Linked DNA regions of Homo sapiens. The gene in region 2 interacts genetically with the main gene of each other region. Each region holds a gene or a part of one and is shown on either strand. Other genes may lie near its edges.

Region 1 (3,500 bases), on a different chromosome or scaffold from region 2:
CACACTGCCCAGTTGCTACTGTTGTCGACAACTGAAACGAGAGGAAGCGATGTGTCATCCAGGACGGGCCTTCCAGTACTCAGGCGAGAGTCACGGCCGTCGTTACCCAATCCTCTCACCCAACGCTGTCTGACAAAACACTGCGGACACAGAGCCCAGTGCCTTGTAGCTGCGCCTGAAGATAAAGCCATGCACTTTCACGGTGGCAACCCCTATTTCATTGAGTCCAATTTCAATTAGTTCTGGATTAGAATGAATTATGCTGGACGTGTACAGAAAACTGCATTTTTCCTGTGAGGTTAATAAATGATTTAATTTTGTTTTCAAATTTTTGTGTCATCTTCCACAGTATGGTGACTTTGGCAGTTAATGGGTTCTGTCTGGTAAGTGGCAGTATCCAAGACCACTGGGTCTGAAGCCAACTCTGCCACTCAGAAGAGCACCCCAAGGCCTCCAGGCTCAATGACCGCTGTATAGTGCTGAGACCACCACCAGCCTCACAGAGCTGCTTTTTAAGGATGGAAAGAGAATACGTATGAGGGAACTACAAAAAGTTCATGCAAAAATGGAATCCAAAGATGAAAACAGAAAATATAAGCTTTATTTCTCAACATAAGCCCCACCAAGGTCAAGACATGTTTGTAAGCAATGATGCCATTGCTTACGATGCCATTTAGTCCATCCCTGAAGAACTGGGAGGCCTGAGAATTTAGCCATGTCAACGCAGTCTTTCTCTACATTATTAGCTGAATAAAAATGGGTGCCTTTTAAAGACTTCTTAAGATCAGGAAACCAAAATCAGTCAGAAGGAGCCGAATCAGGTCCACAAGGTGGATGCCTCATGATTTCCCATAGAAACCCTCACGAAGTTGGGCTTGTTAGAGGAATGAGCAGGAGCTTTGTCGTGGTGGAGGAGGACTCTCTGGTGAAGCTTCCCCAGGGGTTTTTCTACCAAAGCTCTTGCTATCTTCCTCAAAACAATCTCATAATACACAGACGCTGCTGTCCTTTGACTCTCCAGAAAGTCAACAAGCAAAATGCCTTGAGTATCCCAAAAACCTGTTGCTGTGGCCTCTGCTCTTGACCAGTCTGCTTCTGCTTTGGTGGGGCCACCCCACCTCTTGGTAGCCATTGCCGTGTCTGCTTTGTCTTCAGGATGGTACTGGGAAGGCCACACTGCATCTCCTGTTATGGTTCTTTGAGTAAATGCTTCAGGATCTTGATCCCGTGTGTTTGAAGTTTCCATGGGAAGCTCTGCTCTGGTCGGCCACGGACCTGGGTACTAGGGTTTTGGCACCCACTGAGTGGAACGCTTGCTCACCCTTCAGGCGTAATTGCATAAGCTGAACCAGTTCAGATGTCTGCGGTGTTGGCTGTCATTTCTGCTGTTGTCAGTTCCCTCCAATTAGGGCATGAACAAGGTGAATTTTTTCCTTGAAAATGGATGTGGATGGTCTGCTTGCTATGGCCTTAATCTTCAGCATCATCTCGTCCCTTCTTAAAACAAGATATCCATTTGCAAACTACTAATTCTTTGGGGCACTGTCCAAAGAATTTCATAAACTTTTCATAAAGCATCAATGATTTCACCATTCTTCCACCCAAGCTTCACCATAAATTTGATGTTGGTTGTTTTGTTGTTGTTGTTGTTGTTGAGGCGGAGTTTTGCTCGTTGCCCAGGCTGGAGTGCAGTGGCGCAATTTTGGCTCACTGCAACCTCCGCCTCCTGGGTTCAGGCAATTCTCCTGCCTCAGCCTCCCAAGTAGCTGGGCTTATAGGCGCCTGCCACCACGCCCAGCTAATTTTTGTATTCTTAGTAGAGATGGGGTTTCGCCATATTAGCCAGGCTGATCTTGAACTCCTGACCTCAGGTGATCCGCCTGCCTCAGCCCCCCAAAGTGCTGGGATTACAGGCGTGAGCCACTGCACCCGGCCAATGTTGGTTCTTGATTTAATTTTAGCAGAATTCATGTTGCTCTGATAGGGGCTCTTTTAAAACTGATGTCTTATCCTTCTTAGTGCCTCAAACTAGATCCTGCTCAGTGAGTAGGAGCTTATTTTGGTGCAAAAAGTGTTGAAATCCATGCATAGTTTTTTCATAACGTATCTTCCATGATTTTTTTGAAGACCCCTTGTATGTAAAGCACTTAGTACCACTCCTGGGACATGGTAGTGTCTTAATATATGGCAGGTGTTATTATTAACATTAATTATTAAAACACAACCATCATGTAATTCAATGCAATTCAAACACTTAAGTGATCATTCACTGGGACTAGCCCTGGAGATATGAAAGTAAGCAAGACAGGATCCTTGCCATCCAGTAGCAGTAGACCTGGTAAAGAGGTCACAGCTTCCCATCATGAGGATACCGAGCAACCGCCCAGGGGGAGTGAGTGACCAGAAGGCCACGAGCAGCAGAGAAGGGCTCAGGGAGGTGGACATCCTGTAGTTGGGGATGGGGGACCTTTGAGGACAGGAGCTACTACAGGACATGCAGAGGCCCTAGGAGTGTCAGGAGGAAGGCAAAGGAGTGACAGTTCTCAGAGTGTGGCTCTCAGGGCACCCGCAAGCTCATAGCTTTCACACTGCTGCCTTTCTACGCTGCTGACCTCGCGCTGCTGGGGCAACCACAATGGCATGAACTCGGGCCAGACTGCGCAGTCATGTCACTCATGTTCTTTACTACCATGAACTCACAGCAAAAAAACAAAAAAAAAAATGCCACGCTTCACAAAGCAGTCAAAAGTGCTCATTTTATTAAATTCAGCTCCTGAGTAGACTTTTTTTTAATTGTGAAATGTTTATAGACTCACAAGAAGTTGTAAAAGTAGTAGAGGGGTCACATACCTTCATCACCAGCTTCACCCAACTGTGCCATCTCGTGTAACACAGGAAGCTGACACTGGTACCATACAGTGACCCAGGCTGCAGACCCCACTGGATTTCACTACAGAGTGAACCAGGCTGCAGACCCCACTGGATTTCAATACAGATAGAACCAGGCTGCAGACCCCACTGGATTTCACTACAGAGTGGACCAGGCTGCAGACCCCACTGGATTTCAATACAGCTAGAACCAGGCTGCAGACCCCACTGGATTTCACTACAGAGTGGACCAGGCTGCAGACCCCACTGGATTTCAATACAGATAGAACCAGGCTGCAGACCACACTGGATTTCACTACAGAGTGGACCAGGCTGCAGACCCCACTGGATTTCAATACAGATAGAACCAGGCTGCAGACCCCACTGGATTTCACTACAGAGTGAACCAGGCTGCAGACCCCACTGGATTTCAGCAGCTTTCGCAGGCATTCTTTGGGTCTAATTCTATGGCATTTGTCACATGTGTAGATTCGTGTAACAACCACAGCGGCCCTGGCCCAGAACTCTCCATTACCACAGAGGACGGCCTCCTGCTGCCTCCCACTGCTCCGTGGAACACTGACCCGCTCTCCTTCTGAGGCTGGCATTTTGAGGATGTCATTTAGAAATGG
Region 2 (3,500 bases):
ACAATGGATGGAGCAGGCCTGACCTACTTATTCTAGGCGCAGTGGCTGACCTTCCTTTAATGCCTGCTTGAAAATATGGGTGGACTAACAACAGAAAGATCCCCCCAATTCCGGGGCTGCCTCAGCATTTGAGAATCCTGAATTTGTCTCACTTTTCTGATAAATCGTAATGAGAATAAAGAGACAATGGATCCACCTGGAGTCAGCCTTGGGGTCTCAGTCTGGAGAGCTGCACATCCTGAGTTCAGAATCCCTCAGTTCTGCCTGTTAGAGAACAGACAGCAGCAGCCACAGAGGCACAAAGCCCCCACCTGCCCAATGCCCCAAGGACCGGCCTATGATGGGAACAGGATCCGTTAGCTCAAGGCAATGTGACAGCAGGACCAAGGGACCCATTTCAAAGAACTCAAATGAGCGAGTCTTCACACACCCTCCTCAGGGGACTGCGGTTCCTGCTTACAAAGCAGAGCGGTCCTTGTACTTTAAAAAAACAAAAACAAAAAAAAATTCTTTCACCCTTTCCTACCTGAATGCAGCAATGCAGTCGCCTGGCATGGAGGGTTAACTACCACGCGGTACCAAACACTCCACAAACGGAAAACCCCCATGAGGGGCCGGCGGCGACGCCAAGTGCCGCTCCAGCCAACCAGTGAAGGCCGGCGCCGGGCAAGCTGGACTCCAACGACTGTCTGGCTTGGAAGGCGAGACCCACACTGAGGTCGCCCAGCTCAGGAGCTCGCGCAGAACAGTCATGGCTGGGGGGACCCAGGGGCTGCCCAGGGACGGCAGCAGGTGTGTGCACTGTACAGAGCTCTTTCTGCCCCGTATATCAAGACCACGCTTTCCCCAAATTGTCAGTGTCGTAGTCCCTTAAAACACTGGGCGCAGACTCCTTGAAGCCCTGCTTGTACTGTCGCGCACCCATGCAGCCGGCAGGCTCATTTTAAACCACAAGCTGCACTCGATGTCAGAACAAGGATTGTGTCTCCTGTTTTAGTTGGGTTCAAATGGAATTAATGAAGTCTGCAACCCAATCTAAGCCACGTGTATACAAAAATAACTACACATGCTACTGTTTTTAAAAAAGTTCTGCTATCAAGACCTCTGGCTGGGGTAGAGGGCAGGGGCAGGAGATAATGAGCACGATGCTCCCTCCAGGACATTTTAATTGAAAAAACAACCATGGCCCTGTCAGAGGGGCTAAGCGTCTTCTTCCGTTAACGGGAGAAGCTGCCGCACCAAGGAGGCCGGGTCAGAATCCCACTGGGCATGTGAGGCGGCCTGGCAGAGCCAGCAGAGCTCCTTGGTTTGAAAGGACCAAGACAGGAATCCTGCAAAAACCTGGACCCCTAAGCTTTTGCTAACTGCAAGAAATTCCACACTGTAGAATTTCTACCAGTTATTTATTTCAGAGTCCACTTCTCAAGAACCTCCAAGGGTCCAGGTAAAACAAGGATTTAGGGACCCCTTTCTGACACATGCCTTCCAAGGGCTGGCCTGGGGGTTGGGGGGGTGGCCTCCTGTCCCTCTCACCTCCGGGGGTAACACAGTATGAAGATGACACAACCAGAGGTCACTTGACTGCATGGTGGCTGAGTACTACCGAGAGCATGTGGCTGGTGCCGGAGTTCCACAGTAAGTGACCCAATTCAAACAACCAGTCCTTCATGATGTTTCCACTGTGCTTTCCATTTTAAGCGGAACCTCGGCTCTCAAAGGTCCCTTGCTGATCACATTACAGGTCAGTGTCAGACAATGGGGATTTGCAGACATCTGAAGGAGTGGTCGTGGAAACCAAGCCTGAGGCAACGCTGCGGTTTCACTGGAGCCAGCCCCAACACCGCCACAGCCTCCCAGCCCCAGCCCCCTACCCGCCCAGTCCCAGGTCACCCAGAGGGAGGGGCTCCAGGAGCAAAGCTGAGAGATCCCCACCCCGCAGGAAGGGTGCTGGGGAAGGATGGGACCCTCCTCACGTCTACAGACCCAGGCCCACCTCACGCAGCAAAGGTTCACAGGACGAACTCGCCCGACCCTTTCCGTGAAGGAATGTTCCTTTCCAGTGAAACCCCTAAGTTGCCTAAGACTTGGTTTGGTCTTAAGGTAAAATAAAACTACAACTACACACTTTTTTGCCCATGATGTCGTGAAAATGCATGTTGACAGCCTGGTCCACTGATTGTTCGTCCTCGAAAGTAATAAATCCAAAACCTAGCCAACGACGAAGAGTGAATCAAGGTAGCAGGGTGTTGTGACACAAAACAGGATGATGAACAGTATTAGGGACGGGCCGAGGGATCGACCTTGGGTTTCAGCTAAGCTGTGTGTGGGGCGCTGCGGGCCCCTGGGGCAGCTGCCTCCCTCCCCAGGAGCCACCACTCGACTGCACACGGAGTGGACAGACGGTGACGTCCGCACTCCCGGTGACGGCTCTGCTGACTGAGGCCTGAGTCAAGCCTCCGCCCCAGACACCCCGGGCTGGGGCTCCGTGTCACAAAGATTTGGAACAAGGAGCACATCTTATAAAACAGCAGCGGAGACAGGGGAACGGTGAGGGCCTCCATCGCTACTGGCAGACAAAGCGCCCCCCAGGGGAGGGTCAGAGGCCCGTGCTTGAATATTCTGGCTCTCGCCTGTGGGGAGATTGCCAGTGAACCCTGCAGGCCGGGGGCCCGCGTGGAATGCGCCATCTTAGTCAGGGGTGTGCACCGTGGATGTGTGTATGCTTCTCTGAAACCCAGGATTCTCCCCCTTGGCTTGCAATTTGCTTTGCAGCTAGTGCTGACAGCAGCCATATATCGTTCTAAAGCGTTAACAGATACAGTATCTATCATAGCTGGTGCCTCGCTAGGCTTACGCAACACCGTTGGGTAAGCCCAAGGAGTCCTAGAAGAGGTCATATCGTAGACATCTATGCATGTTCTATACAGGTAGAGAAACAATGCACAAAGATACAGGCCACAACGGGTTCCAGCAGGTCAGACTCTGCTGCCAGCAGCAAGAGCGAGATGCACCATGGGATCAAAACAGAAAATTTTAAAGGCAAAAAAAATTTAGCATTTCCCAAACACAAGAGTGGCAGTATAAACGAAGTTTAGTGGGTCTGGGGTGGGCGCGGCCCCCGGCTAACGGGGCGGGTCTCCTCCTCTAGGCGCAGGAGTGCGCCGGGCTCTCCAGGCCTCCCCGGCTAGGTGGAGCGTGACACCGCAAAGCACACCGTCCTCCCGAGGCGGGGCCCAGGCGGCACCAGCCCCTCCCCAGATGGAAGTGCCCGGCAGACAGCTGCCCAAGACCTCACAGAACAAAGATGGACATGGGAAGAGCTGAGACCGGGCTGAAGATGGGCTGCCCGCGCCAGAGGCACAGGGTGCGTGACAAGGCACCACACAGCAGGGGACAGCGCAGCACGGGCGTGAGGCGTGAACGAGCGCGGCAGAGAAGGGCCGTGGGGGGTGGGAACAGGCAACGGCCCCCGGAAGGAGCAGCCTACTGTGGGGCCTCTC
Region 3 (3,500 bases), on a different chromosome or scaffold from region 2:
GGAGTCTTACTCTGTCGCTCTGGCTGGAGTGCAGTGGCGCAATCTCGGCTCACCACAACCTCCACCTCCCGGGTTCAAGGGATTCTTAGCTTCCTGAGTAGCTGGGATTACAGGCGCCCGCCACCACACCCGACTAATTTTTGTATTTTTCGTAGAGATGGGGTTTTGCCATGTTGGCCAGGCTGGTCTTGAACTCCTGACCTCAGGTGATCTGCCTGCCTCAGCCTCCCAAAGTGCTAGGATTACAGGTGTGAGGCACCGTGCCTGGCCCCAACACTATTTCTATTAATGAGTCAGCCACTGCATATATAAGCAGATATTCCCAGCCCTGCTGCCACCTGCTGCCCCAAATCCCACACCATACCTGAAAGGAAGCATATTTGTAGACAGAGCCACCAGTGAGCTGGGGCACAACAGAGAGTGTGGCCACATCCACATACTGGTTAGGGAAGAGAAAGAGATCTACACAGCAGCCTTGGGCCACACACTCTTTGGCCAGGGTCTGATAGGCACCTGTCTGAGGCTGGAACAGAGTCTAGGGGGAAAGAAAATGGGGAGAAGAAAATGTTCAAATATCTCAGCTCCGCCCTATTTGAAAACTGTATATCTAGCATGGGATATTCAAATTCATGGAAGACTTCAGATCTACTTCCAAGGATTTTCCAATAGTAAAAAATTTTCTTTTATATTATTTTTATTTTTTTGAGACAGGGTCTCACTCTGTCACCCAGGCTGGCATAGAGTGGCATGATCTCAGCTCACTGCAACCTCTGCCTCCCAGGTTCAAGCGATTCTCCTGCCTCAGACTCCCAAGTAGCTGGGATTACAGGTGTGTGCCACCACACCTGGCTAATTTTTGTATTTTTAGTAGAGACGGGGTTTTGCCATGTTAGTCAGGCTGGTCTCAAACTTCTGGCCTCAAAAATCTGCCCGCCTTGGCCTCCCAAAGCGCTCGGATTACAGGCATGAGCCATCATGCCCGGCCAAAAGTTCTTCTTTAAAAAATAAATAAATACAAGAGTCTACCAACAGCTTTGGCATCAGATGGAGTAGAGAAGTATGGCAGCAGTGGAGGTTGGCAGTCACAGATATGGTATTTGAAAGGGTGGAGTGTCTGGTCCTAGCCACCATCAAGAAAGTAGAGTCCCCACTTCCTCTGTAATGAAAAATCCTTCCCCTCCCCCATTTTCCAGTCCCACACCTTCTCCTTGTCTGTATTGATCAGCTTCCTGTCATCTCTGTTCTTCAGTTTCCCTGGGGCCTCTGCAATGGGCAGGGATGTATGGAATAGAAAGAGCTTCCCTGCACACTCAGCAGCCTAGGAAAAAAGAGAGGACTACTTGTTTATTCTTTATTCATCCATCTCTTCCCTTGTCATTTATTAAGCACCAGCTATGTCAGACAGTCTAACACACTGGACAGTCACCCACTACTGAAGAAAGAGAGGTTGTATCCCAGGGGATAAGATGGTCAGAGGAAAATGGAGTTAGAGGAGGTTGCCCGATACTCCAGCCTTACCTTCAGAGCCTCCATTCCAGCCTGGATAACTGGTACAAATACTGTCTCTGTTTCCCTTGTGTCTGCAAACATTTCTGGAATCTGATCCAATAAGCTAAAGAGATAGGTGACGGAAAACAACCAAAATTGCTATACAGATTCCAGATACCTCAGTTCTCGATTCCCTGAAGAGTCATCAAGCCTCTAGAATCTGACAACTCCTGGGCCACAACCCCTTTCCATCTACTGTCCAATACCTCTGTTCAACTCCATGACCTTCTATGGTGGTACCCATGCCACCCCCAACCTTTACCTCCACAATCTGGCTCTTACCTGGTGATAACTGCCCGAGACTCATTGACGTTGACCAGGAAGCCATCCAGCAGTGGCACAAACATGTCAGCCACATCAGACACAACCATCATCTGTGGCTGGGCCAATGAGCTCTTCACATTATAGAAGTGGAGCACCTTATTGTAGGTGACAAAGCCAACGCGGATTGCTGACTCTTCTGCCCCACCCTCCCTGTAGAAGGTGACATTGTTACCTAGACTTGCCACCTTTTCCACCACCCACAACTTCATGACACCAAGCTACATTTCTTCAGTCAACCCAGACACCCTATCATTAACCTCAGGAAACACCTCAGTTCTGTAACTCTCACCTAGGTAGAAAGTCTAACAGTGACTTGAGCTCCTCACAGAGGAGCCTAACAAGACCAGTCCTGATGGCATTGTAGGAGACGTCAATCATGAAGATAAAGGCAGGAGGGCTGGGGAACTTATTGTTCTGCAGAGGAAGAAAATGTTGGGGAGAGGGGGAATGGTAAGCAGGCCAGTTGACTATAGAGAAGTCAGCATCAAAAAGGGACAAAAAAGGGGTGAGGGAAATGATAACAGCCATTCTCAGCTGTCTCATTATCCTCCACTCACTGCTCCTCCCATGCTACCTTCCCTCACCTTGCAGTAATCTACAGTGGCCAAGAATTCATAAGAGCCCAGGGATAGCTCAGGGCGGTCATAAGCATCCACACGTTTGCCGGTATGATCCAGGTGCTGAAAATACTGGGGGGGAACTGTGGGAAGCATGGCAGTGTGTTACTCGAAGATCCAGTTTCAATCTTAGTATTCTGGCCCTAGCTGAGCTCACACCACTATCCCTCATTCCCATGTGCCCTACTTCCCCAGCTCCTGAAAGATGGACCCTCATCTCTCTAACTATTTAATAGAGAACAAGGAAGATACAATCAAGACCTTCCCCCAAATCCCAGCTTCCATGAACATACCATCATTGATACAGCTGCAAAAACAGCACTGGAAACGCCTCCCTCCTTCAATGAACTGCATGAAGGGACACATGTATGCTTTGCAGCGGTTGCAGCGCAAAGGGCCAGATTCCCCATGGTCCACAACATACGGTGAAGCCTAAGGCGCAAAGGGGAAGGGATCAGACATAAAGGAAAACCACAGTAGGTTCAGCCAGGAGATGAGGAAGAACAACCGGAGGAAGAAGGCGCATGGCGCAGATATTCTGTCTGCAGAGGGAGTAGGGAGCACAATGATGAAAGGGAGTAAAGACAAATCACAGGAAAATGTCCCTATGAGTAAAAATTATATAGTTCCCTCTTCCTACATCCCACCCCCAGAGCTGCATTTCTCACTGAAAGAGAAGAGGAAATGCAAAACCGGCCATATCAGACTAGGGGCTGCCATGGGCATATGAGGGAGAAAGCCAAGATTATCTAGGATTCTCCTTTCTGGCCCCATCTCTAATGCCCTTCACTCTTGCTCTAAGAATCTTGATTCCAGCTCCTTCCCTAACCAAATATCTGTAACACCTCCTCCCGTATCCCTGGGATTCTGTGCCAGTTACTGATGCCCCAGGCAAATGTCACCCTACACATAAGAGACCAGTGCCCAACTATCCCCAATGGGACCCAGATAGAAATAGACAAACACACAGAGAAAGACGGAGAGATAAGCAGAATATAAACTGAGCCTTTG
Region 4 (3,500 bases), on a different chromosome or scaffold from region 2:
TGGCTCACCGAGGCATCTGTGATCTGGCCTCCTTTTCAGCCCCCTGCCTGGGATGCGCCAGCCACTGAGCCTTCAGGGACCCAGCAGCCAGCCCCGTCTACAGAGAGCAGTGGCCTGGCACGTGAGTTCAGCCCAGATTCCAACCAGGTGCCCTGGTCCTAGGAGAGGACTCAGGGTTTGGAAGGGGACATCTGGCCATGACAATAGGAGCAGGGGTCCTCCTGTATCTTTGGGTGGGCCGGGATTCATTTTAATCCTTGGAGGAAGTGGTAGATATTCCTTTTATCTTTTGGTGGCAAGCTGAGGAAAGCCACCGATTCTTGTCCCATCACTTCTTTCAAGGGGAGGTTGCAGGAAGCTAGGAGCTCATCTCTAACTCCTACCATTGCATCCACAGAGCCGGAGCATGGCCCCAACACAGACCTGCTTGGCACCTCACCCAAAGCCTCACTGGGTCAGTATGCCAGCGGGCAGGCGTGGGGTGTCTGGGAGAGGGTGGACCTCAAATGTTCTTTTCAGAGGTCCTACTGCCTGGCCGTGTGGACAGAGGCCACAGGAGACTGAGCATCTATCTGATTCTCTGGAGTGGGGACTGTGATTGAAATAGTGGATGCAACACTGATTTTAGAGCCAAGCCCTTTGAATTGATGAATCTGGGTGGGCTGGTGTATAAGGCCTGGGGTCTGCCTCTGAGTGTGGGGCTGGGTCTAGCCAAAGTGTTGGGGAGGCCAGCATGAGACTGGACACCTATCCCTGGGCTCTGAGGCAGGGCTGGCTTGTCTGGTGCATTTCCGGGGGTGGAGGGACAGCTCTGAGCTGCCGAAGGCTGGAGGTGACATTGTTCTTTCTCAGCCAGTACCCCAGCCTGTCCTTTAACTCTTTCCTACATTTTCCTTAGTGTCTTTCAGACTTGGTTCAGGGCGAACAGTCCATTTGCTGACCTCGGTTTGTTCTGTTGACTCTTGGGGGTTGGGGCTGGAACCCAGCAGAGTGACTGTCAGACTGATCCATGAGAAGGCTGGCATAGCTTGGTCTGAAGCAGGGCTTCATAGAGACCGCTGGGCTTGGGAGCTCTGTGGAGGCTCTGGGGTGGGCCTCTTGTTAGCCACAAGTCTGTTTCTCCTCCAGAGTCCGTGTATCTGTCAGCTAAAGGGGCCCTTCCTGCCAGAGGTAACTGACAGCTGCTTGGGGAGCCCAGCCCCTGTTCTCAGCTTCCTGCTTTAGAAGCGGAGCCTGGTGCTCACCATATGCTCCCTGCCTCGCAGTCTTTGTTTTGGTTCAGGGAATTTGGACGTCTCTGGTGCTTCGGACGTCTCTGGTGCTTCAGGTCTAGGTTCCTGTCTCACTCTGCTGGGTGCCAGTAAATACCCCAGCCACGTCTGTCTTTGGCTTTGACACCGCTGGTTGGAGCTGGTGGTGGCAGCTTTGCCTTCCCTTGCCTGAAGCTGTTCTTAGGAGCTCTTGCCATGAAGCTGCATGGTGTATACTGAGCTACTGCCTCTGAGCTGCCTTTGTCTTAGCTCATGCCTACCCGTTTCTCACGCAGAACTGAAAAGCTCCATCATTGGCAAGAAGAAGCCAGCAGCAGCTAAGAAAGGGGTAGGTGGGGAGAGGTGGTATGGTAGAGGGGTTAGGAGCTGGGTGCAGGCTACCTGGGTTCACTCCTTGACCTTACCACTTACCAGCTATATGACTTTGGCAAAGGTACTGTGTTTCTCCGAACCTCGCCTGTGAAAGGGATTTAAAGATTTAAAGGGATTTAAAGCCTGTCTTCAAGGGCTGCTGGGAGGAGTCGGTGAGATGGAGCACATCTAGTGCTTGGCGGAGTGCTTGGCACATACTTGGCCCTGTCAGCATTAACTGCCGTCCTCAGGCCCGGGCTCTGCTGGGGCTGTGTGAGCCGCCCATGCCCAGCTCCAGCGGAGCACTATTGTCTTGGCCATGCTGGTTGGGCTCCTGTTTTTTACCCTAAATTTTAAGAAGGGCCTTTTCCTTGTGGGTGTGGCTACAGTGCCTGAACCTGGGAGGGATCTGAGGAGAGTGTGATTGGGAAGGCCCCTTACATGATTCTGTTCCCAGCTGGGTGCCAAGAAAGGCCTAGGGGCCCAGAAGGTGAGCAGCCAGAGCTTCAGTGAGATTGAGCGGCAGGCTCAGGTGGCAGAGAAGCTCCGTGAGCAGCAGGCAGCCGATGCCAAGAAGCAGGCGGAGGAGTCCATGTAAGTGTTTGCTGCCGGGGCCTCAGGCTTCTGCGGGGCTTGGTGGGTGGGTATGTTGGACAGGTCAGGATGGGTGGTGGCCACTGACACCTTTGTTCCCCCTAAGGGTCGCCTCCATGCGTCTGGCCTACCAGGAGCTCCAGATTGATCGTAAGAAAGAGGAAAAGAAGCTACAGAATCTGGAAGGGAAGAAGCGAGAGCAGGCAGAAAGGTTGGGCATGGGCTTGGTATCCCGAAGGTGAGGCTCAGCTCCGGGTGTGGCAGGGAAATGCCGTTGTTTTCTGGGAACCATTGCGGGGCCTTCCTAGCAGTTTGGGATGCTAGGCTTATTGTTTCTCCAAGTCTGAATAGATCACTTGGCTTATTGTTCTAAAGTCCCTAATACAGTGCTTGGCGCATAGTAGGTATGTGCTCAGTAAGTTGAATGACTGAATAGGTATGTGAACAAAACACAGGATCAGGTGTTATTTCAGTATCTTCAAGAGACTAGGGTGGTTTTTCTTGATGGCACTTTGAGTCATGGGACAGTTTATTTTTCCAGACCTCCCTGAGAATTGCGGTGCATTTAGTATCATCCTTAATTCCTGTCTAGAGATGCCATTTGTGCTCCCTGTAATACCCTCACATATCCCCCACATTTCAAATGCCCTCAGTTTGGGTGGAATCCTTCCTGTTTCAGAACCACTCGGTTTGCTGTGGTTTTCTTTCTTTTTCTTTTGAGACAGATTCTTGCTCTGTTGCCTAGGCTGGAGTGTAATGGTGTGATCTCAGCTCACTGCAACCTCTGCCTCCTGGGCTCAGGTGATCCTTCCACTTCAGCCTCCCAAATAGCTGGGACCACAGCCGGGAGCCACCATGCCCAGCTAATTTTTTTACTTTTTGTAGAGACAGGGTTTTGCTATGTTGTCCAGCCTGGTCTCGAATTCCTGGGTTTAAGTACCTTGGCTTCACAAAGTACTGGGATTACAGATGTGAGCCACCATGTCTGGCTGCTATGGCTTTTTATTTTTATTTTTTGAGACAAAGTCTCACTCTGTCACCCAGGCTGGAGTGCAATGGCACGATCTTGGCTCACTGCAATCTCTACCTCCTGGGTTCAAGTGATTCTCCTGTCTCAGCCTCCCAAGCAGCTGGGATTACAGGTGTGTACCACCGTGTCTGGCTAATTTTTTGTATTTTTAGTAGAGATGGGGTTTCACCATGTTGGCCAGGCTGATGTCGAACTCTTGACCTCAAGTGATCCACCTGCCTCAGCCTCCCAAAGTGCTGGGATTACAGGCATGA

Evidence for each region. Genes that interact genetically often act in the same process or in processes that back each other up.
Region 1: changes in DAZAP1 (region 2) and TRAPPC10 together harm fitness more than expected from each alone (negative genetic interaction), as found in Homo sapiens cells (one large-scale study listed by BioGRID).
Region 3: changes in DAZAP1 (region 2) and SEC24C together harm fitness less than expected from each alone (positive genetic interaction), as found in Homo sapiens cells (one large-scale study listed by BioGRID).
Region 4: changes in DAZAP1 (region 2) and ARFGAP2 together harm fitness less than expected from each alone (positive genetic interaction), as found in Homo sapiens cells (one large-scale study listed by BioGRID).

What each region holds. Positions count from the first base shown.
Region 1 is NC_000021.9:44,099,309-44,102,808, reverse strand, and holds part of TRAPPC10 (trafficking protein particle complex subunit 10), read right to left. Parts: exon of another isoform or gene 2,743-3,500; intron 32-2,742; coding exon 1-31. UniProt on the Homo sapiens protein: Specific subunit of the TRAPP (transport protein particle) II complex, a highly conserved vesicle tethering complex that functions in late Golgi trafficking as a membrane tether.
Region 2 is NC_000019.10:1,424,586-1,428,085, reverse strand, and holds part of DAZAP1 (DAZ-associated protein 1), read right to left. Parts: intron 2,209-3,500; coding exon 2,126-2,208; coding exon of another isoform or gene 2,125-2,125; intron 1-2,124. UniProt on the Homo sapiens protein: RNA-binding protein, which may be required during spermatogenesis.
Region 3 is NC_000010.11:73,764,872-73,768,371, reverse strand, and holds part of SEC24C (protein transport protein Sec24C), read right to left. Parts: intron 2,922-3,500; coding exon 2,783-2,921; intron 2,573-2,782; coding exon 2,457-2,572; intron 2,287-2,456; coding exon 2,162-2,286; intron 2,023-2,161; coding exon 1,831-2,022; intron 1,613-1,830; coding exon 1,519-1,612; intron 1,319-1,518; coding exon 1,202-1,318; intron 536-1,201; coding exon 365-535; intron 1-364. UniProt on the Homo sapiens protein: Component of the coat protein complex II (COPII) which promotes the formation of transport vesicles from the endoplasmic reticulum (ER).
Region 4 is NC_000011.10:47,170,380-47,173,879, reverse strand, and holds part of ARFGAP2 (ADP-ribosylation factor GTPase-activating protein 2), read left to right. Parts: coding exon of another isoform or gene 1-39; coding exon 40-121; intron 122-397; coding exon 398-454; intron 455-1,128; coding exon of another isoform or gene 1,129-1,170; intron 1,171-1,546; coding exon 1,547-1,599; intron 1,600-2,079; coding exon 2,080-2,216; intron 2,217-2,322; coding exon 2,323-2,454; intron 2,455-3,500.